Regions from separate parts of the Homo sapiens genome. Here regions 1, 2, 3 and 4 are each linked to region 5. The links come from fine-mapping of genetic effects on gene expression. A gene starts in region 5. Each other region holds a variant in brackets. All regions are shown on one strand. Distances are from middle to middle. Region 1 overlaps LYRM4 (LYR motif containing 4). Region 2 overlaps LYRM4-AS1 (LYRM4 antisense RNA 1). Region 3 overlaps LYRM4 (LYR motif containing 4). Region 4 overlaps LOC105374894 (a long non-coding RNA gene). Region 5 holds the start of LYRM4 (LYR motif containing 4).

What was found. PIP is the estimated chance that this variant, and not a neighbour inherited with it, causes the effect.
Region 1: its variant is the best candidate, but not a certain one, in a credible set for the expression of LYRM4 in caudate (GTEx, PIP 0.64).
Region 2: its variant is the best candidate, but not a certain one, in a credible set for the expression of LYRM4 in spinal cord (GTEx, PIP 0.71).
Region 3: its variant is the best candidate, but not a certain one, in a credible set for the expression of LYRM4 in testis (GTEx, PIP 0.81).
Region 4: its variant is the best candidate, but not a certain one, in a credible set for the expression of LYRM4 in monocytes after LPS (Kim-Hellmuth 2017, PIP 0.72).

The regions. Positions count from the first base shown.
Region 1 is chr6:5,134,570-5,139,673 of GRCh38, forward strand. The region is part of intron 2 of LYRM4 (LYR motif containing 4); the gene reads right to left. The region is part of intron 3 of LYRM4-AS1 (LYRM4 antisense RNA 1); the gene reads left to right. Among named protein-coding and RNA genes, the nearest start is that of MIR3691, 11 kb to the right of the region's middle. RefSeq lists a silencer at 4,986-5,104. The variant C/T (reference allele first, on the strand shown) is at 3,116.
Region 2 is chr6:5,096,357-5,101,460 of GRCh38, forward strand. The region is part of intron 3 of LYRM4-AS1 (LYRM4 antisense RNA 1); the gene reads left to right. It also overlaps a transcript of LYRM4 not described here. Among named protein-coding and RNA genes, the nearest start is that of PPP1R3G, 14 kb to the left of the region's middle. The variant T/C (reference allele first, on the strand shown) is at 2,394.
Region 3 is chr6:5,173,815-5,178,918 of GRCh38, forward strand. All of the region lies in intron 2 of LYRM4 (LYR motif containing 4), which reads right to left. All of the region lies in intron 3 of LYRM4-AS1 (LYRM4 antisense RNA 1), which reads left to right. Among named protein-coding and RNA genes, the nearest start is that of MIR3691, 28 kb to the left of the region's middle. The variant G/A (reference allele first, on the strand shown) is at 2,072.
Region 4 is chr6:4,550,279-4,555,382 of GRCh38, forward strand. The region is part of intron 2 of LOC105374894 (a long non-coding RNA gene); the gene reads right to left. Among named protein-coding and RNA genes, the nearest start is that of KU-MEL-3, 58 kb to the right of the region's middle. The variant C/G (reference allele first, on the strand shown) is at 2,944.
Region 5 is chr6:5,258,388-5,263,491 of GRCh38, forward strand. LYRM4 (LYR motif containing 4) reads right to left here and starts at 2,563. Exons shown (of 3, transcript NM_020408.6): 1 at 2,261-2,563. The coding sequence starts at 2,346. FARS2 (phenylalanyl-tRNA synthetase 2, mitochondrial) reads left to right here and starts at 3,126. Exons shown (of 7, transcript NM_006567.5): 1 at 3,126-3,273. RefSeq lists an enhancer at 1,794-1,843 and silencers at 2,054-2,363, 2,424-2,643.

The DNA of each region.
Region 1 (5,104 bases), 120 kb before region 5:
TATGTACCAAAATAGTTTAATATGAAAACGAATACACAGTTTCTCAAAACAATACGGGAGAGCATGGGTAGGCGTAAGGATGAAAAATACCATCTATTGATATTACAGAGTATCTAACTCTTAAAGATGGGTGATGGATACACAGGACTCATTTGACAATTCTACATACTTTTGTATATTTTCACATTTTTCCATAATAACAGGTTAAACAGCAAAAAGTCTTCGTCATTGCAACTAACAAATTGGGGAAAATGTCATCAAATGTCTATTTAAGAGATCTCATCCCTATTCCTTCTCCTTCCTCTCCCTTGGTAACGGCACTCCTAGGGCTGTGGAGGGTGCGGTTCACTCCTGGGACTGTGGAGGGTGCGGATCACTCCCGGGACTGTGGAGGGTGCGGATCGCTCCCGGGGCTGTGGAGGGTGCGGATCGCTCCCGGGGCTGTGGAGGGTGCGGATCGCTCCCGGGGCTGTGGAGGGTGCGGATCGCTCCCGGGACTGTGGAGGGTGCGGTTCACTCCCGGGACTGTGGAGGGTGCGGATCGCTCCCGGGACTGTGGAGGGTGCGGATCGCTCCCGGGGCTGTGGAGGGTGCGGTTCTCTCCCGGGGCTGTGGAGGGTGCGGTTCACTCCCGGGGCTGTGGAGGGTGCGGTTCACTCCCGGGGCTGTGGAGGGTGCGGTTCACTCCCGGGACTGTGGAGGGTGCGGATCGCTCCTGGGGCTGTGGAGGGTGCGGTTCACTCCCGGGACTGTGGAGGGTGCGGATCGCTCCCGGGACTGTGGAGGGTGCGGATCGCTCCCGGGGCTGTGGAGGGTGCGGTTCTCTCCCGGGGCTGTGGAGGGTGCGGTTCACTCCCGGGGCTGTGGAGGGTGCGGTTCACTCCCGGGACTGTGGAGGGTGCGGATCGCTCCTGGGGCTGTGGAGGGTGCGGTTCACTCCCGGGACTGTGGAGGGTGCGGATCGCTCCTGGGGCTGTGGAGGGTGCGGATCGCTCCAGGTGTGATTTTCATGGGAATGGAACTGGCTCCCTAGGTGGTGTTCATTTCCTCTGGATGCCTCAGGCCTGTCTCCTCCAAAGACGAGAACTTTCTTTTAAGTTTTCCTGCTAAATATACTCAAAAAAGCTTTCTAGCTCTAGACTTTCAAACACACACAATACTGATGTGTATGTGTGTGTGTTAAATACACAAAACACAACATTTATCATTTTATTCATTTTAAGTGTACAGCTCTGTGGCATTAAGTACATTCACATTGTTGTACAACCATCAACAGCATCCTTCTCCAGAATCTTTTCATTTTCCTCCACTGAAACCCTGTAGCCATTAAACACTAACTCTCCATTCTCCCTCCCCTCCAGTCCTTGGCAACCGCAATTCTACTTTCCGTCTGTAGGGGGACTCTAGGGACCGCCGTAAGTGGAATCATACAGCATTTGTTTCTTCTATGGCTTATTTCACTTAGGACAATGTCGTCAAGGTTCACCCTTGCTGTGGCGTGTGGCGGAATTTCCTTCCTCTTTAGGGCTGAGTAACATTCCATTGTACGGCTGTACCACATTTTGTTCATCCAGGCGTCTGTTGAGGGACACTGGGTTGCTGTTGTGAATAATACTGCTCTGAACACTGGTGGGCAAGTATCCTTTTGAGTCCCTGCTTTCAGTTCTCTGGGGTATATACTGAGAAATGGAATCACTAGATCATTTGGTCATTCTATTCAATACTTTTAAAACCAAATCAGTATTCTTCTAAATGATAACTTGTCCCCTTTCCTGCTGCCTTTTTGACTGGGGCTGGGTTGAGGGTGGAGAAGCGGGAAGACACGATAATGTAGTACTTAAGAGCCTGGGGTTTGTCCCAAGACAAACCTGGTTTAAACACCTGCTCTGCCAATCACTGGCTCCGAAACCTTGGGTTTCACCTAACCCTGTAGTCTCAGTTTCCTTACCTACAGAATGGGATAATGTCAATTTTACATAAGTTAGATGGTATTTATAATGTCTTACTACAATGCCTGGCACACAGCTTTCAATTAATGGCTTCTAGTAATCGATTACTTCCATTTCAACAATCCCAGGTGTTGTCAAAGAAGGTGGCATTTACAAATGAGTCCCACAGGTCCTAGCCACAGTCTGTGGTAATGACATGCTAAACCGCCCCAAGGAGCAGCGCCTGTAGGAAGACTGGGTAGACTTCCTTCCTTTCCTGTGGCAGAGGGCTCCGCACAGAAGAAACTCTGGTCTCTTCCTGATGTCTCTTAACAGCTTTATGGAGATATAATTCATACACCATCAAATCTATCCAATTAAAGTGTACAATTCAATGGTTTTTAGTATATTCACAGTTGTGCATCCATTACCACAATCAATTTTAGAGCATTTTCATTACCCCCAAGGAAACACTACTCATTAGTCGCCTTTCAAATGTCCCATCCTCTCTAGCCCCTGGCAACCGCTAACCCACTTTCTGTCTCGATGCATTTGCCTATTTTGGCCATTTCACAGAAACGAAATCACACAATGCGTGACTTTTTGTGTCTGGCTTCTTTCCCGTAGCATAATGTTCTCAAGGGCCATCCGTGTTCTAGCATGTATCAGTACTTGGTTCCGTTTTACCACCAATAATATTTTTATTGTATGGCTATACCACATGTTGCTCATCCATTTATTATCTGATGGCCATCTGGGTTGTTTCCACTTTTTGGCTATTGCTAATAAGGTTTCAATAAATATTTGCATATAAGTCTTTGTGTGGACACGTTTTCATTTCTCTTGAGTATACATGTAGGGGTGGGATTGCTGGATCACACTACCTCTTCTTTTTAAGCCCCAACATAGAATGGTTGCTTCTAGGACCTGTCAAGAGATTCTCAGACAAGCAAAAACCAAGCTCCTGGAGTTGGCCCCACTCCTCCACTTAGTGAGAAGCTTACAAAGGTGTTCAGATTTGTACTCTGTAATCTCACTGCATTGATACTGAACATCTTCTTTGAGCTCAGTTCCTCCTCACAGAGGAACTCTAGTGTCCTTTAAATAATGACTCTGCTACCCGGCTAGTGATATGCCTCTATCTGTATTTAAGATCATTTCCCCTGAATGATGGAGATTTTAATATT[C/T]TGCATCTAATGTCCTGTGACTCTATCTGAATAATTAAAACCACCCAGTTGATTGTTGCCCTATTCTCAAAGACAGGATTCCTGCTCTTTTGTAGACATCTCCACTCAGGTCACACACTGGAGTAAGAGTTGACAGGCTTTGTCCTTGCAAGCTGCCTGTGGCCCACCACCCAAATTATCCTCATGTGAATGTATTTTTGAGGGAGGATATGGAGCATTCATCCTGCCATTTTTGCAAACCACAATAGCCAAGTCTTCTCACCCCTTTCCACTGTGTTACTCAGAGGCCTGAGGTGGTGCAGAGTTCACTTTGCCTTTGGTCAAAACGTACTGGGGAAGGTGGTGGCTCCACAAGTTGCAAAGAAAAATACAATGGTGCTGTCTTTCAGCAGGTCAAAAAGGATTCTATAAAGACTAATGGTAGACAAGGGGCACTGAGGAGGATTCATGAAAGTAAATTTCATGATGACAAAAGAAGACATTTCTGCCAAGATTTTATATATAGAAGATATTCAAAGGCCAGGTGTGGTAGTGCACACCTGTAATCCCAGCACTTTGGGAGGCCAAGATGGGCAGACTGCTTGAGCCTAGGAGTTTGAGACCAGCCTGGGCAACATGACAAAACCCTGTCTCTACAAACAATACAGAAACTAACTGGGCATGGTGGCACACGCCTGTAGTCCCAACTACTCGGGAGGCTGAGGTGGGAGGATCACCTGAGGCTGGGGAGGTTGAGGCTGCGGAGAGCCGTAATCATGCCAACTGTACTTCAGCCTGGGCCAACAGAGTGAGACCCTGTCTCCAAAAAAAAAAAAAAAAAAAAAAAAAAAAAAATCGATAGTTTTTCTTACTTAAAGAATTTTTATCAGTAGCCAGTAAGAATAATGACTGTTTTTTTTATGAATGATTTCCAGACTAAGTCACAAGAAAACCTTATATACTATGACATCTGTATATTAAGGAATTCTAACATGCTCCCCACTGAAAACACAAGAAAATATCAAGATGCAATAGAAAACAAACCTGGTGGCAGACAATGACTATGGACTTTATGCCTGGGGGTAAAAAGAGAAAAAAATAAAAGTTAAGAGTAACAGTTAACAGAAAGAAAGAGTTCTTTGGGATTTCAAACAGAAGCAAGTGCTAGAGGTGTTTAAGACAGGTTAAAAGCTAGAAATGAGATTAATCCTTTAGACATAGACATTTTGCTCTTCACAATCAGGTTAATACTTTGAAGTCTTAAAGAAAGTCTTTCGAGCAATCAGAGGACTTCAAAGTGATTGTTGCACATAAGCCTAAGAGAATTTGATCTCAAAAGAAGAGTAATATTGATGTTCGTTGAGTACCTACTATGTTCTAGGCACTTATGCTAGGTACTTTGTAGATGTAATTGAATGTCGTCCTTGTTAACACTCTCTGGAAATAGGTTTTGACATCTCTGCGGTAGGGAGAAGAAGACAGGCCTGGAGAGCATAAGTAGCTTGTTCTGAATGACAATAGCTGGTGAGCGGCAGGGCAAAGCAGGCCTGCCAGCCCAGTGCCTCTGATCTTCCCAGGCACCGCTGCATTTCCACCTCGCTAACTGGAGAAATACCAGCAACTCTGGAAACATGGTGAGCATATCATATCCAGAACTCTGACCAACGAAGGCGCAGGCTTCATTCAAAGTTAGGCAACAGAATATTAAGGTTCATTCATGACACAGGTCACACTGTATTTACAAATACAAACTGGAGTAGGACAATGAGGAGTATCAGATAAAAGTTAATGTTTGGCTCGATTTAAAACAGTAGCACTTGACTGGTTTTCGACACTTTTGCTATGATTGTGTTTAATATTAACAAGATATTGTTAAATTAAGTTTGGCCTAAAGCTGCCTCTTTACATATTTTAAAGGTTTCTGTGTATGCAGTGAACTGTAACCTAACTGGATGTGTACACAGACTATAATCTACTCTTGTGCTGATCACTGAGCTTTGGCTATAGGCA
Region 2 (5,104 bases), 160 kb before region 5:
GCGCACACCTGTAGCCCCAGCTACTTGAGAGGCTGAGGTAGGAGGATTGCTTGAGCCTGGGAGGTAGAGGCCACAGTGAGTTATGATCATTTCACTGCACTCCAGTCTGGTGACAGAGCAAGACTGTTTCAAAAAAACAAACACAAAAATCCAACCCTACCACTGAGAAGTGTATAAAGCATTGGTGAAGAAGTACCCTTAGCTATGGGGGAGGTGGCCTGTGTGGGGATGAGACACTGGCTCTAGGACAGCCAGGCCTGCAGTTGCCACCAGCTCACCCCTGGCTAGCCAAGTGCTTTCAGATAAGACCCTTAAAATAGTGTGAGTGAGTTTTCATGCTTGCAAAATAGGGGCGGTAACTCCTGCCTAATATAGATTGTTGTGAGCACTGAGGGAAGTTAGTTGTGAAGTGCCAAGCAAGCCGTTGGTCTCAACATCTTTCTCTTTTCCCTCTGGCCTCTGCCAGTTTGGTTTTTGCTGATTTTATTCTGAGGATAAACACTGTCTGGCTCCAGCTGAATGTAGGAAGCATAACTGAATCTTCCAGTTGGGAGAACAAATGATAGTAGCCCTGAGTGTGCTAACCAGACAAACTGTTTTTGTTACCTGGGCAGAAAGTATCCATTTGCTTCTTGTCCACATGGTGGGACGCTCTTAGTTTGTTTTCTGTTGCTTATAACAGAATACTTGGAACTGGATAATTTATAAAGAAAGGGAATTCATGTCTTATAGTTATGGAGACTGTGGAGTCCAAGGTGAAGGAGCTGCATGCGGTGAGGGCCTTCTTGCTGGTGGAGACTCTCTGCAGAATTCTGAGGTGACGCAGAGCGTCACATGGTGAGGGGGCCGAGCAGGCTTGCTCAGGTTTCTCTCCCTCTTCTTAGAAAGCCAACAGTCTAATATATCTATATGTTTGAGACAGGGTCTTGTTCTGTCACCCAGGCTGGAGTGCAGTGGCACGATCATGGCTCATGGCAGCCACCAGTCTAATATACCTATATGTTTGAGACAGGGTCTTGTTCTGTCACCCAGGCTGGAGTGCAGTGGCACGATTATGGCTCATGGCAGCTAAAGTGATGGGCTAAAGTGATCCTCCAGCCTCCAGCCCCAGCCTCCTAAGTAGCTGGGACTACAGGCATGAGCCACCGCACCTGGATCATTTTTGTTGATTTTTTGTAGAGATGGCATCTCACTATGTTGTCCAGGCTGGTCTCTAATTCCTGAGCTCAAGGAATCCTCCTGCCTCAGCCTTCTAAAGTGCTGGGATTAGAGGCAAGAGCCACTGTACCCGGCCAATAAATTAATATATTAATGGATTAATCTATTCATGATGGCAGAGCCTGCACGACCCAATCACCTCTTAAAGGCCCATTCTCTCAATACTGCCACTTTGGGATTCAGTTTCAACAGGAGCAATGAAGGGAGACAAATATTCAAACCACCGCAGATGTGTATTAAGCATGCACATTGTTACGACATCATACACATGCTGTACATACACTAATATCACTTACATACACTGCGTTTCCTTACAACAGCCTCTTCAGAGATTATCCACCCGATCTAAAGCAGCTACTCTTGAGGGGCCTCCTGTTTGGTGTCTGTTCTTTTTGTTTGGTGTGTGTTTTTATACAAAAAAAATTCTTTTTAGAGATAGGATCTTGCTATGTTGCCCAGCTTGGCCTTGAACTCCTGGGACAGGCAGAGTCCTCCTGCCTTGGCTTCCTGAGTGGCTGGGACTACAGGGGTGCACCACTGCACCCAGCTTGGACCTTAATTTATACGGACAACTCCACGCCTACATCTACAGATAGTCTCTGCGCTTACACATCCTGCTCCGTTCCGAACCCAGCCAGCTCCACACATGTAAGGAAATGGCATTTTCTTCATTCAGATGGACCCTCAGCCTCCCCAAAGTTGGCACTGTGAGTCTCTGGTAGGGCAGGCCCAGCAGGCACGTGGCTCTGCTCTGCTCGGGAGTGATGTAGGGCCAGGCTGCCTTTGGCTGCAGGCTGCCCACAGCAGAGAGCTGCTTCTCATCCTAGGCTTGGCCCAGAGATCCCCGCTTCACATCAATGCCATTCTCATGAGCAAACCCATTTACACATACCCTCGGAGTGGGCCTGTCCCTATGCAAACCTGTTTGGCAGTATCTCCTGAACCAGAACAACCCCATGATCCGAAATTCCACCTAGGTACAGGAGTGTGTACACACGAGCACCAGGAGACACGCACAAGAATATTGACGGTGGCATTATCTGTCATAGTCAAAAGCTGGAAACAATGCATGCTGCAACAGCCCATCTGAGGCAGGGTGGGCAGAACCGGGTGAGGGAGGTACACGTCCACGCGCCTCATCTTACATCACCCGAGGCACACACCCATCAGTACCA[T/C]GGCGGGCAGAACCCCTGGTGTTCTCACTTGCCAACTGTGTCTCTCCCTTGCTGAGGGGAATGGCTGCTTTCCACTTGGTTAGGTACTCATAGGATGTGATGCCACTTTCCTGGATGACTTTACTCAATCCTAACTCTCAGATGGGGAGTGGGCTGGAGGAACACCTATTCTTCACATCTGGTTGCCGAGAGGACTTTTCCCATATTTGTGGTCTCTTCCCCTCCACCAACACCCCCAGTGCTGCTCACAGTGACCCGCTTGGTGGGTGACAGCCATTGTCCACACTGACTGGTGGCATAAGCGCATCTCTCAGAGGTTCTGAGGGTGGGTGGGTCACGGCTTTCTTGTCTCTCTTCTTGTACCAGTGGGGGCTACAATCTGGGCAGTGCATCTGCTTTGCAGACTCATGTTTCCCTTGGATTTGAAGGGGTTAGTTGAAGGTATATACTTATATAATTTTTTTTTTTTTAAAGACAGGGTCTCACTCTGTTACCCAGGCTGGAGTGCAGAGGCATGATCTCGGCTCACTGCAACCTCCACCTCCTGGGCTCAAGCGATCTTCCTAGCTCAGCCTCCCGAGTAGCTGGGACCACTATAGCACGTGCCACCACACTCGGCTAATTAAAAAAAAAATCTATTTCTCTATCTATCTATCTATCTATCTATCTATCTATCTATATTTTATAGCGATGAGGCCTCACTATATTGCCCAAGCTGATCTTGAATTACTGTGCTCAAGTGATCCTCCTGCCTTGGCCTCCCAAAGTGCTGGGATAGAACCAATTTTGACTCTAATGTTGTTCCTTGTAGCCTATGTCAATTATCAGGATGACATTCTGTCTCTATGATCTTCATATTTTTTATTTCTTTTGTTTTGAGATGGGGTCTTGCTATGTTGCCCAGGCTGGCCTTGAACTCCTGGCCTCGAGCAATCCTCCCACCTTGGCTTCCTGAGTTGCTGGGATTACAGGTGTGAGTCACCGCACCTGGCACATCACTCCTAGTTTACAGCTGAAGAAATTGACTGTCAGAAAGGTTGAGTCATGTGCCAGGAAGTAAGAGCCTGAGCTTGGATTTGAACCCAGGTCAATCTGACCCAGATCCACTGCTCTGAACCATCTACTCATCAAACAAATACACACACAGAGAAGACAGCGTATCTGCACTTGATCCACAGGAAGGACATTTTGCTTGGGTGCCTCCTCTCCTCCTTGGTCTCTCCTCAGGATGCAGCCCTAGACATTTAGACCTGTCAATGTCTGGACCAGAGGCCAGTGTCCCTCTCTTTACCATCTTGGACCTGTCGTGGCTCTTCTGCAGGACTCAGCAGGACGCGGTCCCCTTCTCAGTAGGGAACTTACCTACTAAAAAATGGGAACTTACCTCTTGCAGGCCTCAATATGGCTCCATATTTCAATAAAACCCAGCATGTGCCAAACTGCAAGTTACAGAAACTGATACAAGCCAGCGTCAGCAAGGAGGGGAGTTGGCTCATGGATGCTGGGTTCTTGCCTGGAATCTAAGGGCCATGGGGCCTCTCCAGGGCCTGGAAGCCAGGACGTATGGAGCCCTGGAACCAGCAGGAACGGTCCCTGCCTCATCTCTGCTCTCTGAGGTTGCATACGTCTCTCCTTCCAGAGCGGATTTCTCTTCTCCCCTGTCTACATGATGGATGGAAGATGACTGCTCTGGACCTCCCAGGCCTGTGTCACTTGAGCTCCAGCAAGAATCCCAGACAGAAACAGCAGCTCTCACTCCTAGTTCTAAGAGAAAGTACTTCGCCTACTTGGGGACAGGTGTCATCCCAGTTCCATCAGCTGTGGTTAGAGGTGGGGGTGGGGTCATGATGCAAAATGGTGGTCAAGAACCCCCAACTCCTGTTGTGAGGGATCAAAAGGGGTTCCTGTGAGCTTGGCTGACACCCCCAATGTCTCTACTGCAACCAGGACTCTGCAAAACACAGGCATACAGCGATGAGTGAGGTGTGGGCCTGTGGACGTGTGTTCCTGTTAAGGGGATGTGCTGTTGCCTCTTATTTCAGTGAGGGGCAGTCCCCCTGCCAGTCTTTCAGGATCAAAGTGCTGGTGTTATCTTTGCTTCGCCCCCATCCTTTATTCTGTGTCTCCATTGCTCATCAAGTCCATCATTTGGAAATGCCTTTTGGATTCATTCTTTCTTCTCCATCTGACCCACACAGACACTGCCCCGTCCTCTGCCAGCCCCTAGTCCCCTTACGTCTCCGTGCCTGCCACAGGGCCCTAGCTGGTCTCCCTACCCTCTCAGTGGCCACTCTGTGTATCTCTCCCTAGCTGCTCCACTGCACATCGCTGCCGTACATCGCTGTTCCCTTGCATAGCAGCTCCCTTCCCCACCACATAACCCCCACACCCCTTATCCTAGCATTTATGGCTCAGGTAGAAGTAGTTCCTCCTTCTGAATATTACTCCCTCCCTCTTCCAGCCCTATTTTATCTGTGCCTCTCCCAGGGAATTTACAGAACTCGTACAGCTATTTACATACATGTCTTAAGGACAACGCAAAACGTTCTGTGATTAAGGGATGAATCCATGTTTGGTCCATTTCTTCATCCCCTAAGGTATCTGGCAGTTTCTAGAAGGAATGACAGAGGAGCTAATAGTTATTGCTTACTGTGTATTAAACCTCGTGAAAGAACTTTGTGTTACGCACTGAAAATCCTTATAGCAACCCT
Region 3 (5,104 bases), 85 kb before region 5:
TTAAAATATAGCCGTAACCTGCTTTAAGGCAGGTTAGACATAGAGTTGCTTTCAATAGGAAGCTGTGCTGGAGACAACAGGCAGATTCCTGGCAGTATGGGTTGCTGTGGTATGAAAAGATCTGTGAAGTGACACTGGAAACTATAGACTGGGGGGCTTTGTTTCGAGGCCTGGGGTAAATGCAGGTCCAAGGAGGAAGCTTCCATTTTGTCCTGAGCCCCAGGATTCTGTGAGAACTGCAACCCAGTGTGCAAAGTGCAGAAAGCTGCCTCCTCTTCGCTCTCTCAGTTCTCTTTTGTTGTCAGACCTGATGTTTTCCTTAGTAGATTCTCTGGAAACATTCTCTGTTTTTTTTTAAGTTAGGGCAAAGAAAAAATAAAGAGTCTTTCACAATCAGCTGTTGGTGTTTAGAGCTTACAACGCATTTTGCAGTGAATGCTCTACAGAGTATCAAAAAATTCATTAAAATTTCACCTGCACAGAGAAAACACAACTAATTTTACCCCTACAGGGCATCAGCTGTGTTACTAAGGACAGTGTCACCTTTAAAGTCAATTCCTGTGGTTGAAATGAGGACTATATGCATCTGTCCTGCTTCCGGCTCCAACCAGAAGTGGTAATGAGGAGAGACAGACGGATGCACAATGATAGTCTTCACAAAAGCTCGAGTTTCAAAATGAAAGGGGAGAGTACTCAGCGCGTCGCATCCTGTTTGGTGTCACTAGGACCTTTCTTCTCAGAGGAAGGAGGCTATTTATAAACTTAATGGTTACTTCAAGGAGGGCAGGCAGAAAAATAAATCTTTAGCTTCAGATTTCTTAAATCTTCTCTTGGTCACTGTTTATTTTGTCTAATTTTCTATAACTTTTATTTAGTCTTTACACTTATAATTGGTAACTGGAAGGTCCCCAATACTAAATTAAGGTGTGTATATATAAACATATATTATCCCCCCTCTCTTTTGAACAGATGTTGTCATGCTTAGGACAAGTTTAAATTCTAACAAACGTCGAGAAAGGCTGAGAATATAAAAGATAAGCAAGGCTTAACGTCAAAATTGAAGCTCTCTTTCAGTTTTATACAGCTAATCATTAAAGTTCTGCTCCTCAGCCAATTCAGCTTAGACACATCACACACGTAATTAATGCACAAAATGCTGCCATTCATGTGCAGATGAAGGAAGGATGCGGTCTATTTATTGAGCGCCTAGATTCTCAGTTACAAGAATTCTTTGCAAATATGATTTAAAGTAAGTAGTATTTAAAGAAGCAATGGCATTCCAGACCCCAATGTGGAAATTTCTGGGGATAAACATAAATGTGCAATCTTAAATAATGCCTTGTTTTATGAGTTCTGGGTCTTTCAAAGAGGGGCTCAGAGCCAGTGCATAGACAAGAGCATAAACCCAGATCTCATGGTATGCTTTTAAAACATTATGAAGCAATATTTCAATATCTAATTTCACATTAAAATGGGAAATCTGGAAACACAAGGACTTCATTCCCACCTCCGTTTGGAACAGCTGTCCTTTAAAACGTAGAGGCCTTCTAGTCAGCCACAGCGCCCTCCACTGGCACTTCTACACATGCCAGCCTCATCCTTCACTTTCCTGCTCGACCTGTGGATTCAAGAGGGAATAGGACACAGGTGGAGTTCTAGGCCCTTATCCTTGAACTGGATTGAGGAAGGGATGGGAGAGGAGAATTAAAGAAGAAAATCAGGAAAAACCATTTCCTGAGGTTTCCAGGATAAAGGGCCAGTGGAATACTAAGGAGAGGGGGCCTGTGGTGGTTTTAAAACAGGGTCACACATTTTGTGACACCCCTGCCATTGAGAATCGGGGGTCTATGTTCCCACACTTTGAATCTGAGCCTGTGACTCCTTTGACCAAAAAAATATGGCAGAAATGAAACTACATATTTCCAAGGCTGTTTCACAAAAGGCCACACAGCTCTGCTCTGTCCTCCAGAACACTCTCCTCTGCAGTTCTGCCCACCAAGTAGGAAGTCGCACTGCTCTGAGGCTACCACGATGTGAGGAAGCCCCGGCCACACAGACATTCTGCTCTACA[G/A]CTGCTGCTGATCCTGGCCTAGGCACCAGACCTGTCTCCGGGTGATTCCAAACCCCAGCCATTTGAGTACACCCAGTGTTACAGTCTTCCCAGCTATGGCTGATAGCATGTGCACTATCAGCATTCCCGGCCCAGATAATCTGTGAGTTATAACAAAAATGGTGGTTGTATTACGCTATTAATTTTTTTTTTTTTTTGAGACAGAGTCTCGCTCTATTGCCCAGGCTGGAGTGCAGTGGCGTGATCTCAGCTCACTGTAACCTCTGCCTCCCGGGTTCAAACTATACTTCTGCCTCAGCCTCCCAAGTGGCTGGGACTACAAGCATGTGCCACCATGCCTGGCTAATTTTTGTATTTTTAGTAGAGATGGGGTTTCACCATATTAGCCAGGCTGGTCTTGAACTCCTGACCTCATGATCCACCCGCCTCAGCCTCCCAAAGTGCTGGGATTACAGGCATGAGCCACCGTGCCTGGCCTACGCTATTAAATTTTAAGGTGGTAGAAACAGATTGTTGGTATACTAAGGCCTACGGAATACTAAGAAATTATCTGAAATGGCTTCTTTGGTGCTACCAGTGATACTGTCTGTTAGCCTTTGCTGGGTTCTAAGCTTTACCTGAGATAATCAAATTGAGTACTCACCTGTCTGCTGTCCGTTCCTCCCCTCCTCAGGAACCAATGGGAAGGAGGTTTCCTGGGCAGTTTTCATAGACTGCACCCTGATGAGCAGTGTGGTTTAGAAATAAGTCTTGGCTGTTACTGAGGCCTGAAGCACTGAAGGAAGTGTGCTTATGTTATGATCTGACAGAGTTACCTTTGAAAATGAAGTTTCGGTCTTCATCTTGAACACAAGGATAATGACAGCTGATTATCTGTTTCTTTCACAGTGGTTAAAAGTTTTGGTGAATGTGTATCTCAGATTTCTAAAAGTGTGAGTATATAATTTCATCTACAATGGCATGAGGCAGAAGTATAAGTTCTGAAAGCTCCTGTACATTTCCCCAAGCTTCCCATCACATAATTACAAATGAGTAGTGTTGTCCACAGGAAGATACTTGTTTTAATACTCCAAATAACTTATTTCAGTAGCACACATTTTGATTAGGATTGTTGACTGTTTGAAAATATCTCAATAGATCCCCTACTGTGTAAATGTCATACATGTGCACAAAACTTGAGAATGCCAATAGGAAGGGAAAATATGGAAAAGTGCGAATACAGTTGCACCATCGACAGCTGCCAGAGGACTCTCAAGGCCTCCTGTGTCTTCCCCGTGTGTTTAAAAGAACTCTGCTCTTAACAGGTGTGACCACTGCTGAAATCACAGGTGAGCGTAGAAGATTCTCTGCTACTTAATATCTTCTTAAGGCTGTCCTCAAATGCCACAGTCCTCTTACAGACTGAACAAAGAAGTTTTCCTAGTAATGCAGTAACAGTTAGGGATAAGCATGTCCTTGGAGGAGTACTGCACCCAAACATTTTAATCGCTTGGAACTCAGTCATCTGACTGGAAAGCCTACCCAGCTCTCCGGGATGACCCCTTCCTAGGCACTGCCTGCCTCTCTAGGGGGCACCATTCAGTGAGACACAAGCTCTTGGTGTCAACACAATGATCATTCAGGTGACCATTGTTGAATTGACCTCTAGACCCAGTCTCCCACGTTGCCTTGTTAGGACATGCTGTTTCTGTCCTGCCGCTCTGGCTTGAGGAATCTTTCATTTATGTATTTTCTTTAATCCTTTTAGCTACAGCTGTCAAATGTATCCTTACGGCACCAGGTTATTTCCGTGACTAATAAAAAAATCCAACTAGAGTCACAAGATGCTGTGACTTGTTATCTTCTCTGAAGAGTTTGAGGGGCTCGAGGACAAGTTATCACACATAGCAGTGTCTGTTTCATACTCTTACAAACAGGTCAGATGCATTTATACAGGGATGAGAAGTGATTCTCAGGAAATAAAGATTTCTTTCCAAGAACATACTAGGCCTCACGCGCTCCTCAACACTGCCAACTTGGGGGATAATGCATTCTGGGGATGACGTCTTTGTTTAAAACATTTCTGAAAGCCACTGCTCACCCTGGGCTCTCACTATACCCACATATGCCACTATTTTTTTTTTAACTAAGTATTTAATTACTTGTGAGAATGTCTGTCTTCCCCTAAGAGTGTCACCAGCTTAAGAGCAGTGACTAAAATTGTCTTTTCATCTTATATCCCTGGTGTCTAGCAGAACACCTGGCAACATAGTAGGCACTCAATATTTATTGAATCACACATACTTTGTTTTGTATATTGTCTGTGTTGGCAGTTGCATCCTTTGAGGGTAGATTTTTTTGGTAACAGTCAAAAGTCATTCAGAGTCAAGTATGAAGAAAGAGGCCACTATACTACTCAATTTTCTTATGTGTATCATAAACTAAAACTGAAGGCCATTCTGAAAAGGAAGTTTATTGGAATAAACAGACAGACCCTCTAAGGCAAATAATTTGAAAGCTAACACCTGGATGTAGGAATTCTCACATGGTTCTTAAAAAAATTGTTTAGGGATTCATAACTCTTTTTTTTTTTTTTTAATTAAGCTTCTAAAAGTAAACTACTTTCTGCAGTAGTGGGTGGAGCGGGGAATGAAAAATACAGAAATAGGCCAGGTGCAGTGGCTCACACCTGTAATCCCAGCATTTTGGGAGGCCGAGGCAGGTGGATTAGCTGAGGTCAGGAGTTTGAGACCAGCCTGACCAACATGGTGAAACCCTGTCTCTATAAAAACACAAAAATTAGCCGGGCCTGCACCTGTAATCCCAGCTACTCCAGAGGCTGAGGCAGAAGAATCGCTTGAACCCGGGAGGCGGAGGTGGCAGTGAGCTGAGATCACGCCATTGCACTCCAGCCTGGGCGACAGAGTGAGACTCTGTCTCAAAAAAAAAAAAAAAAAAAAAAAAAAAAAGAGTTTCCTCTGATTGTACCTCACTGCTACAAAGCGTTGAAATACAGTGAGTTCCTTTTAAGGAAAGAAGTTTACTGGCAGTTTG
Region 4 (5,104 bases), 710 kb before region 5:
GGGCTCCAGCATGTGGGACTCCACCACCTGGGGCTCCACCCACCTGGGGCTCCACCCACTTGGGGCTCCACCCACCTGGGGATCTACCCATCTGGAATCCCCCACCTGGGGCTCCACCCACCTGGAGCTCCACCCACCTGGGGGCTCCATCACCTGGGGATCCACCCACCTGGGGCTGTGTCCACCCTGTGGGACTCCACCCACATGAGCCTTCACCACCACTCCACTTAACTGGGGCTCCATCAGGTGGGACTGCATCTACCTAGGGTTCCTGGCTTCCCTTATCTGGGGCTTTTCCTGGCTCCAGTCACCTAGGGCTCCACCTAACTGGACAGCACTTCTTCTCAAGCACCCAAGGGTCTCCTGGGTGTCCTGGCCAAGGTGCCATCTGCAGGGAATCTTTGAAAGACACCGTTCTAACCACCCCCTGCACCCCACATCCTCCTCAACACCCTCAGGAAAGTACCTGTTCTTAGAATGGTGTGCCAGGCCCTTTTGTTACCCCACACGCCTACCAGGCAGGACTTTGGCAGCCCTAGGTAGACCTTGCAGCTGGTTTTTCCCACCTCTGCACGTGTGGTACCCACCGCCTGGGGTGCCCATCTCGCTTGTATCCGCATGACAAACTTCTATTCCGGCTGGAACACCAGCCCAAAAATCACCTCCTCCAAACTCCTCATCTTACTCCAGCTTGGCTGCACCAACTCTGACTTTGTCACATAAGACAAAGAAGGTAAATATCTCTTTCACCTACCTCTTTGAACTACAAATCAAAAAGATCTGAGTTTGAATTCTGGCTCTTTTACCTATCAGCTGGGTGGTCTTGGGTGCATCAACCTTGCAAAGCCTCATGCTACTCACCTGTCAAATATGAATAGTAGAGTCCACTCCACAGAACACTTTGAGAGATTGAAATAATCACACTGCCTTCACCCTCCCCCAAACAGTAAGACCCTCAGAAGCATCTTATTCATGTTATCCCCAGGAGTTTGCAGGGCCTTTACCACTGGAGGAGCTCCCAAACTATCTTGTGAATGAATGATACTGGTGACTCAAGAGAGAGCCAGTTTATAGAATTTTCCCTAACAGGCCAGAGTCATGGCATAGCTCTGCCGTGGGTTTACAGGGTGGTTCTTTACTCAGATCCACATAATAATGCCTGAGGAGGTTTAGAAAGATTCTGCTGCTCCCACTCAAAGAGACTACTTCTGGGAGAGATGCAGAGCTGGGGAGGGAGCTTTGTTGATAGCCCTCCAGGGACTGCAAGGTGCATAATGGTGGGTTTACCGATGTTTCCCTCCTCTCCTCCCTCCCAGCCCCTCTCCAGCTTTGCCTCTCCTCCTTCCTCTTCCTGGGCTGTCACAGATAACAAGCAGCCACCTTCCAGGGACAGCCAGAGGTAAGGCAAGGATCAGCAGGAAGTGGGAGGAGGAATGAATGAGCTTTGAACACAAAGCACAGTGGCTCAGGGTGACATGTGGCTCACCTCAGTTGCAGGGACTAAAGGATGCACTTGTCCATAAAACATCCTGCAAATGTATCCTGCAAATGTATCCTGCAAATGTATCCTGCAAATGTATCCTGCAAATGTATCTTGCAAATGTATCCTGCAAATGTATCCTGCCACTCGTGGATTTTGGCAACTGCATGCGTGGATTCCTGCAAAGTCAATGAACACAACAGTGTAGCCCGGGATCCTTTTCAGGCAATGCCCTGCGGACCAGTACAAGTATGGAAACTGTGCAGGTGGTGGTGGGCCAGTCAGCTAAGCACGTTCCCAGTCCCCAAAAGGTCAGCTTTGCCCTCCCAAGCTGGAAGGCAGCAGTGAAGGCATCCCAAACAGTCACTTCAAGACTCAACCCTGGCTCAGTTTACCTCAGCCACTGTGATTCCTGCTTCCTTCTGCAAAAATCTCAGCAGGGAATGTTCTCTGCCACTTGCACTTGGGCTGGAGAGAGACTAGGGTCAGTCGATCAGTCTGCATGTGTGGTACCCACTGCCCAGCGTTGCTCACCTCTCTTGTATCTGCCTGACAAACTTCTATTCCAGCTTGAACACCAGCTCAAAAGTCACCTCCTCCAAACTCCTCAGCCTACTCCAGCTTGGCTGCACCAACTCTGCCTTCGTCACATGAGACAAAACCCAAGAACAAAACCACAGAAATTGGCTCACATATTCCTCTTCTCTCAGACTTTGGGCACAAAGTGCCAGCCACCTACTCCCAAGAAGCTGCTGAGGATTTTTAAAATGCAAATGCCAGGTAGGGGATAGGACTTAAGAGTTTATTCTGAGAGAGGTGGAGTAAGTGCCTTACCCCGGTCGCTAGTAAATGGCAGTCCTGGTGACACGTAGCCATTTCCCCCATTCCTCCTCCCTCTTTTCTTCTCGGCTTAGACTCACCCTAAGGTGAGGCAAATTGCTGCTGCCCCTCGGCTCCCTCTGCCACTCCATTCCTGGGAAATGGCTGCCACCACGGCTCCACACCCTACCTCTCCTCTGGGAGGGAAGGATTAGCAGGATCAATGACCTCTGGCTCCAAGAGGGTGATCACCCATCTTGAGACTTTCAGTTCTAGGGACACAAGCATGGCCTTCATCCACCTCTCATGACATCACCCGGTGTTATATGGGTTTTTCTCCTATTGTTAGACCACAACTCGGCTCCCTGGATTCTCTGACAATGCCACAATTGGCAGCATCATTGGCTCTTAGCTACTGAAAACATAACAGAGACAAGTCTTGCAACAAAAAATCAATATGATGGATAATAGGCAGGAAAAGCAGCCCCCACAGAATAAGGGAAGGCCCCAGTAAGTCTAATTTTCATTGACCCAGTTTCATTGTCAAAGCACAGAACATAGCAAGACAGAGTGACCTCCACACCCAAAAAGCTTCAGACTATTCTGCAAATGAAGCCACCACGGACCATCTCTCTCTTCCTCCA[C/G]GAGCCCATGGATGTTAACCACCAATGAGTGAGTGACAAAGAGAATTCCCACCTTAGAAAGGAGCAGCTGAGTCTGCTAGTCATTTAAGACAGGTGATTTTCATACGTATAATGGGGGAAAAAAATCACTCCACCCCATTCTTATATAGGAATGTAATGGGATGGGGAAGGGGGCTCTAGGTGGTAAATGGAGCCAATCATGCTTGCATTTCACTTCCATGTATCACTGCACTGGCGGCATTAGCTCCCAGAAGCAGAAAGGAGTGTGAGGTGTGGATTGATTCTTTCTTACAGGACCACAGTCTCATGAGCAGTCAGCGCACATTGCCGAAATGTGGAAAGAATGTCGGATTGATTTCAAGAGTTTCGGGTTGACTAATACAGCCTCAAATTTCTTTATCTAGGCAGTGAGTGACGATGGCTGCACTAGCATCCTGGGGAGGAAATTAAAGCATTCGTCGAGGGCCTGACTCAGGAAAGGGTAGAGGAATGGATTATGTCAGCCACAGGAGACCAAGGTGAGAGCACGAGGGAAGGAGCAGGAAGTTCGACCCTTGAGTAGCATCCGGAAGCATGAGAAGTGGTGAAAAGCTTGAGCGATGAGTTTTTTAATATGATACTTCTGTGGAACAAAAATTGGTCTGTCTCCCCCAAACTTCAGCAAAGTCTGTTATCCACACAAAAGCTTTAGTGAGAGTTTTTTTTTTTTTCTACCTCAGAGCAAGGGGAGTTGTGAAAATGAGTAAAACGGCTGAACTCCCTCATCTGGGTCAAGGCGATGGGGAGCATGGGATGGCGCGATGTAGAAGTAAGGCCCCCTGTGAGCTGGGGAAGACATGGTCGGGAAAACCCATACCAAAGCCTTCCATAAACCTCGAGGAAGAGTCGGGTGAGGTGGCTCACGCCTGTAGGAAGCCAAGGCAGGCGGATCACCTGAGGTCAAGAGTTCGAGACCAACCTGGCCAACATGATGAAACCCTATCTCTACAAAAATACAAAAATTAGCTGGGCGTGGTGGTGGGTGCCTGTAATCCCAGCTACGAGGGAAGCTGAGACAGGGAGAATCACTTGAACCCAGAAGGCAGAGGTTGCAGTGAGCCAAGATTGTGCCACTACACTCCGGCCTGGGCAACAGAGCAAGACTCCATCTCAAAAAAAAAAAAAAAAAATCTCGAGGAAGACCTCTGATTCTCCATAATTGGAGAATCATAAGCCACAGGCCCATTTTGTTCCTAAGGGTCAGGGTAGCCCAGGTAACATCTGGGTTGTATACCTAACGTGAATTGAATTTGCATTGCAACTACATTAATACTTCTGATTTTTATACAAGGATAGAAAAGAAAAACACAGCTATTAATGTGTCCTATCTGTAGTGTTTATCAATGTACTAGCACCTTGGGAGCACCTGCAGTGTGCAGGGTTCCATTCTACAGGTGCTGCTGACCAAACTATCTAAGGTGAAGGTGCAGCTGCTGTCATTCCCAATCCATGCAGTGTGATGTGTGGCCCTACTATGAGTGACTTGTATGCAGTTTGCACCAGATGGGACTCACCACAAGAATTCAACAGCACCCAATCTGGTCTATTCCCTGTTTAATAAAAGAAAGCCCATGACACATGCTTGGATGCCATGCCAATGTCCTGTTACTAGGAACATTACTCAACTCTTATTCTCTCTTGCTGTGTTCTCATTTCAGATCTTGCTTGCTGATGGACACTGATCTGCACACCAGCATGAATAACACTGCTCTAGGGCATACAAATAAGTACAAAATCCTTGCTCTCAGGGAGCTTACAAACTTTCCATTATACTAATACCCATTGAAATATGTTCACTCTAAGACAAGGCAATCATAAAATCTACTTACAAGACAGAAATGATGAATTGCAAAGTGAATTCATAAATAACACAAATTAGGAGTTTAAGAAAGGAAGCCATTTGGAGAAACCAGAAGATTAGAAATGAAAGACAGAAAACTAGATTTCAGGTCTGTGGAGGGGAGAGACCTTGAGCTGAGTCTTGAAGGTTGTTTAAGATCAAGTTACATCTCACCACAAAAAGCATAAGTAGGTGAGATAATGCATACATTAGTTATCTCCATTTAGCCATGTGACAATATACACATATTTCAAAACAACATGTTGTACACAATAAATATAT
Region 5 (5,104 bases):
TGCCTTACAGGGTAATACAAATAGTACCTACCTCACAAGATTATTGTCAAAACAAATGTGTTAATAGACATGAAGAACATAAGATAGCAGTGGCACACAGAATTGATAGTGGATGTTGTGTTGCTATTGATTTGCCATCAGTGACAAACAGCTGCAGAGATTAGAGAGGAGGGAAGGGACTTTTCCTGAAATTCACAAGACACAGCCTTAATGTAAAAGGACGTATTTTTATAACAAGTAAGTTTATCTAGGGAGGTAATAGCAGGAATGTCGGTTTTTAGGTCTATGATCTCAGGTAACAGTATAAAATGATTATCAGATTCCTTTGGATAATATATTTATATTTGGATAGTAAATTTAGCTTAAAAGTATATGCTTAAGGTATAATTTGATCAATTATTTTCTGAATGCATATGATCTTACAGTTGCCCATACTGAAACCCATTTTCAATTTTCTGCCTTTCAGGTAGAGTCTTGAATGATTTTCCTAAAGTTTGAATGATTTTCCTGTTGAGTTTCGTGAATGATTTTCCTGTTCAGTTGGCAATTACTCATTTGAAAACGCTTGGGCCTCATTTGCTCATAAATCATTTCCAAAGAGAATTTCAGAAATGGAAGGGTCCTTAGAGATTGTCTAGTCCAACAGTCTATTTCATAAACAAGAAAACTGAAATACAGAGATTGAGAGACTTGTCCAAGTTAGTCTTCGAGGGCTCCACCTTGACTTTCTTACATGCTCTCACATAAACCCTCTCCCTGCCACTTTCCTTAGTGTGTGAACTGCCTGCTGATTCCAAGTCCTTGTGTATCCTGAGTAAGCTTTAATGACAAACTATTTTACTCCAGACTATGGTGAAATCAAATGGTTTCTATTTATTTAACTTGCATATTTCATGTGTTTCCTCAACAGACTTGGTTAAGTACTTGGTGCTAGGTGTTTGGTTAATTCTTGCTAAAATTCCACCAGTATGCTTATTATTACACTCTTTATTCTCCAAAGTCAAAGTCATTAAGTAAAATCATTCTCTCCCGTGAAATTTAACCACTTAACTGGGTGGATACAACCTCAGTGGTATGACCCAGATGCTGTTTTCAAATTTGCAGCATGAGTATATTTTCCAGGCGGGTTTCTAAAAATTTGAGAGTCATTGCTTAAGAGGCTTAGCGTTCCTGTCCTCTGACAGAGGTTGTACTGGGCAGACCCATCTCAGGGCCTGCCAGCTCACACACGTGCTGGAGGGGGGCCTACCTAACCAGGTGTGTTCCAAGGGTAGGCTCTGCTCTTATGACATCCAATCCACAGTCTGGCCAGTCACCTAAGTGAGGCTTGAGGTAAAGAGATGAGTTGATCCAACCAGATTCTTTCTCATGGGAATATGGCTCAAACTCAGAGAGAGACAGGTAGTTAGTAAAAACAAAACAAAACAAAAAACAAATCTAAAAAAAAATGCAGAGAGAGAATCCATAAGAAAATGATGGGTCAGAACCAGCAACACTGTGAAAGCAGAGGCTCTGAATTAGAAAAAACATACAAAGAGTAACAATAAAAGACTCATAGGCAAATAGGGGAGTGGGGAGGCGTGAGAAAAAGTGAATGTGTTATATTAAAGATGTGAGTTTAGGCCCTCAATATCCTGCTGTCAAGGTCCAGTAAGCGGGATCTCTGTCTGGTGAGCCAGGAGAAACTGAGGTTTCAGCTCCAAAGCTTGTGAGACCCTTTTTCCTTTTCCGCTACGCATTTCCACCATACCCTAAATAGAATGGATTCTTGCAACCAAAAGAACTCATTACGACACCTAGGAAATTTTAGGGAGGTGCTAGAGTGTGCCTTCAGCTTTGTCGCAGTGTACTACTCACTGGCCACTTCCACTCTCAACTCTTCCAGTGCTCAAGGGAAGTTTTACATATGCAACACACTGGCCTTAACTTCACAAATGACTGATTTCCATCCCTTTTTTCTCTTCTGCAGAAACATAACACTAATCATGCTCCTAGAATAACTACCAAGATAGCCTTTAGGGGGAAAACGTCACAAGACATGAACGTCTCCCCTGGTAGAAAGAAAGGCTCCTCCCCGAGGTCTCAGAGGCCACACCTGTAGGCAGGAGCACGCTTTTCGATGGCGGAGCCCGGTCCTTGCCTCGCAGCCGCCGGCAAACCACGGTGGCTCCCAGTCCCCGGGGATATTCCGCGTCAGCCCGCACCCCCGGTCCCCGGCCCCTGGCCCCCCGCCCCCGGCCCCCGGTGCCCGCTGGGTCACCTGTAATTGTAGGCGCTGAAACGCTTGCTCTCTCTCAGCATCGCCCGGTACAGAGATAACACTTGTGCGCGACTGGAGGCTGCCATTTTGGAAAGAAAAAAAAATAAACGGGTCCTCTTCGCCGAGGTCCCAAGTACGACCCAACCCACGAAACTCCAGCCTGTGCGGAAACCACGAACGAAATAAAATGCTGCGGCTCGGCTTTGCCAGCGGGCCGGGCCTAAGCCTAAGCGGGCAGCCCTGCGGATCGCGGACGGCGCCAGGCGTCCCGCGCCGCTTCGGGGGCGGGCGCAGGCAGGGCTCGGGGCAGCTAAGGGGGCGGTGCTGGGAGGGAGATGCCTCCGCCCCGCCCCGATCCCGCCCCCGCCCGGAGGCTCGGGACCCAGCAGCCGCTCCACGCGGCGGGAGGGCGGGGAAATAAGAGGACTGGCCGCCCGTGCATCCAGCCAAGCTCCTGGCGGACGGATATCGGAGGCCCAGGCATTCGAGGGACGTGCAGTTGCATCACGGAGAGCCTTTGGGAACCGTCTGGGGTCTTGGCGGAGACATTTGTGTTTCGGGGGCAGCGCCCCTTCCTACATCCAGGAGGCCGCGTTGCCCGGGTTACCGAAGGCCGCCGCACCGACGCCCCGCCCCTGACCGCCGATGCCCCTCCCACGCCGGCTGCGGTCGCCCTCGGCGCTGCCTGAGAGAGTTTGCGGGATTTCAAGGGTGACTTGATTTCGCCTGATCCTGGTCGGCAGGGTGGGGTTTCTTGGCATTCCTCAGGCCGGGGGATGCGACGTCTGGGTGTGGAGGTGATGAGCTAGGGGTTCTGTGGCACTCCGGCTCTGCTCAGGGCGACCTGCGTAGGGGCCTCTGGGGCAGGCCCGCTTTCTGTCAAAATGGCAGCGCCCAGCGTGCGCGGGTATCTCTGAAGTTGGGGTTTAAGATTCTTGCCCGTGAGAGCGAACGAGCCTGCCGTACTTCTGATTTTGAAACACCTGGGTCTGGGCTTCCCGGGCGAGCGGTGGGTGAGTGCCGGCCTCATTGCAGCCTGGGGTACGACGTGGGCGGTTGGTGTTGTAGGGGGTTTACATTGGCCGTGGATTTTTTCCTCTTTCCGGATGTGTTTTTGCTTTTGAGTGAAGAGTTCCCGTGGTTTTGTAACCTAATAAATGCATAAAATGCAGCTTGGGTTGTAGACTTTGGAGAATAATTAGAGACCTTTAGGGCTTTAGGCTTTCTCCAAGAAGCGGAGCAAGTTTTCAACCATGGCTTTCTTCAGAAGACTGCAGCTTTTTTGAATCATCTTATTAAAGTGGTGGATAAAGTTGCTTGTTCTGATCTTTGAGCATGGCACTGGACGCAGGAAGCTTCAGCCAGTCCTAGTTACTGTGTTTGCAAAGCACTTTTCTTGTTTTTGGAATCTTGCTTTATGTAATCAACCTTAGGAAGAACCACACCTTTCTGCACTCAAGCACAGCGAGAAGTACGTTATGCGTGAAAACAAAACAACTTTGCATTAAAATCCATCTTTCTCCGAACCACTTGGTCACGGTTGTGTTCTCATCTGCTTTAGTGTATTTGGTTTTGAAACGATATACCTGCTGTATGTCTAAACAACTTTATATTTTCAGGAACTTTTCTGTTTCCTTTTCTTTTTTTTGAGATGGAGTCTCGCTCTGTCGCCCAGGCTGGAGTGCAGTGGCGGGATCTCGGGCTCACTGCAACCTATGCCTCCCAGGTTCAAGCCATTCTCCTGCCTCAGCCTCCTGAGTGGCTGGGATTACAGGCGCGCGCTACCTCGCCCAGCTAATTTTTGTATTTTTAGTAGAGACAGGGTTTCACCATGTTGGTCAGGCTGGTCTCGAACTCCTGACCTCAGGCAATCCGCCCGCCTCGGCCTCCCAAAATGCTGGGATTACAGGTGTGAGTCATCACGCCCAGCCTCTATTTTCAGGAACTTTAAAGGCAGAAAAAACACTTCTCTGACCTTACCATTCTTTAGTGTACTTGCAACCTGGTGTCCTTGCATCCAGATATTCTTACTAATCCTGATGCAATGACATTTTTTAAAAGGCACTGAAGAGAAAATACTTTTATTAAGATATCTTTAAGTCTCCTCCCTGATTTCTTGAAAATCTCATGTCTGTTATTGTTTATTATTATTTTTTAAACAGGATAGCAAAACTTCTATTACTTCCTGGTTGGTCAGGTCATTGAGCAAATCTAGCCTCTGCTTTATTGAAAGGACTTTTTTGAGTTTTCCCTTTGCTATTTCTTAAAGGATCCAAGACCAAGGCAATTGCACATTGTTATAGAGTAAGATTCAGAGCTGATTTCTCTTGATACACTATTGTGTGCCAGTGATATGAAATGATATGCGGCACCTCAAAGCTACAACATTAATGCAAGTTACTGATAGAGAATGCTATCAGAGTGAAAAGGAAAAACTTGAAGATTATTTTGGCTTTTTTAAAAATAGCAAAGATTACATTATTTTATTATATTTTGCTTTTGAGAGTAAAGTTGGAATAATTACTATATACAATTGTTTCTACCTAATTATCAAGGAATTTAATCATTAACGTACATAATTAATGTATCTAAATTACTCAACTTTGTTGTAATCAAATAAAACTTTTCCAAATAAATATGTATAGTTTAAATAGTTTGGGTAGCTTAGTCCTCTGTTAGTACGAGCAATGGTTGCAGTTAGGAAAGTGATAGGCTTCCCAGTTAATTCTGAGCCAAGTCTTCATAAAAATACCTTATTATTTTATTTAAAATGGTTTACCAATGTGTTGGACATCATTGCCTGGAGAGGCTAAAAGAAAATAATCATTCCGTAGCTACATCTCA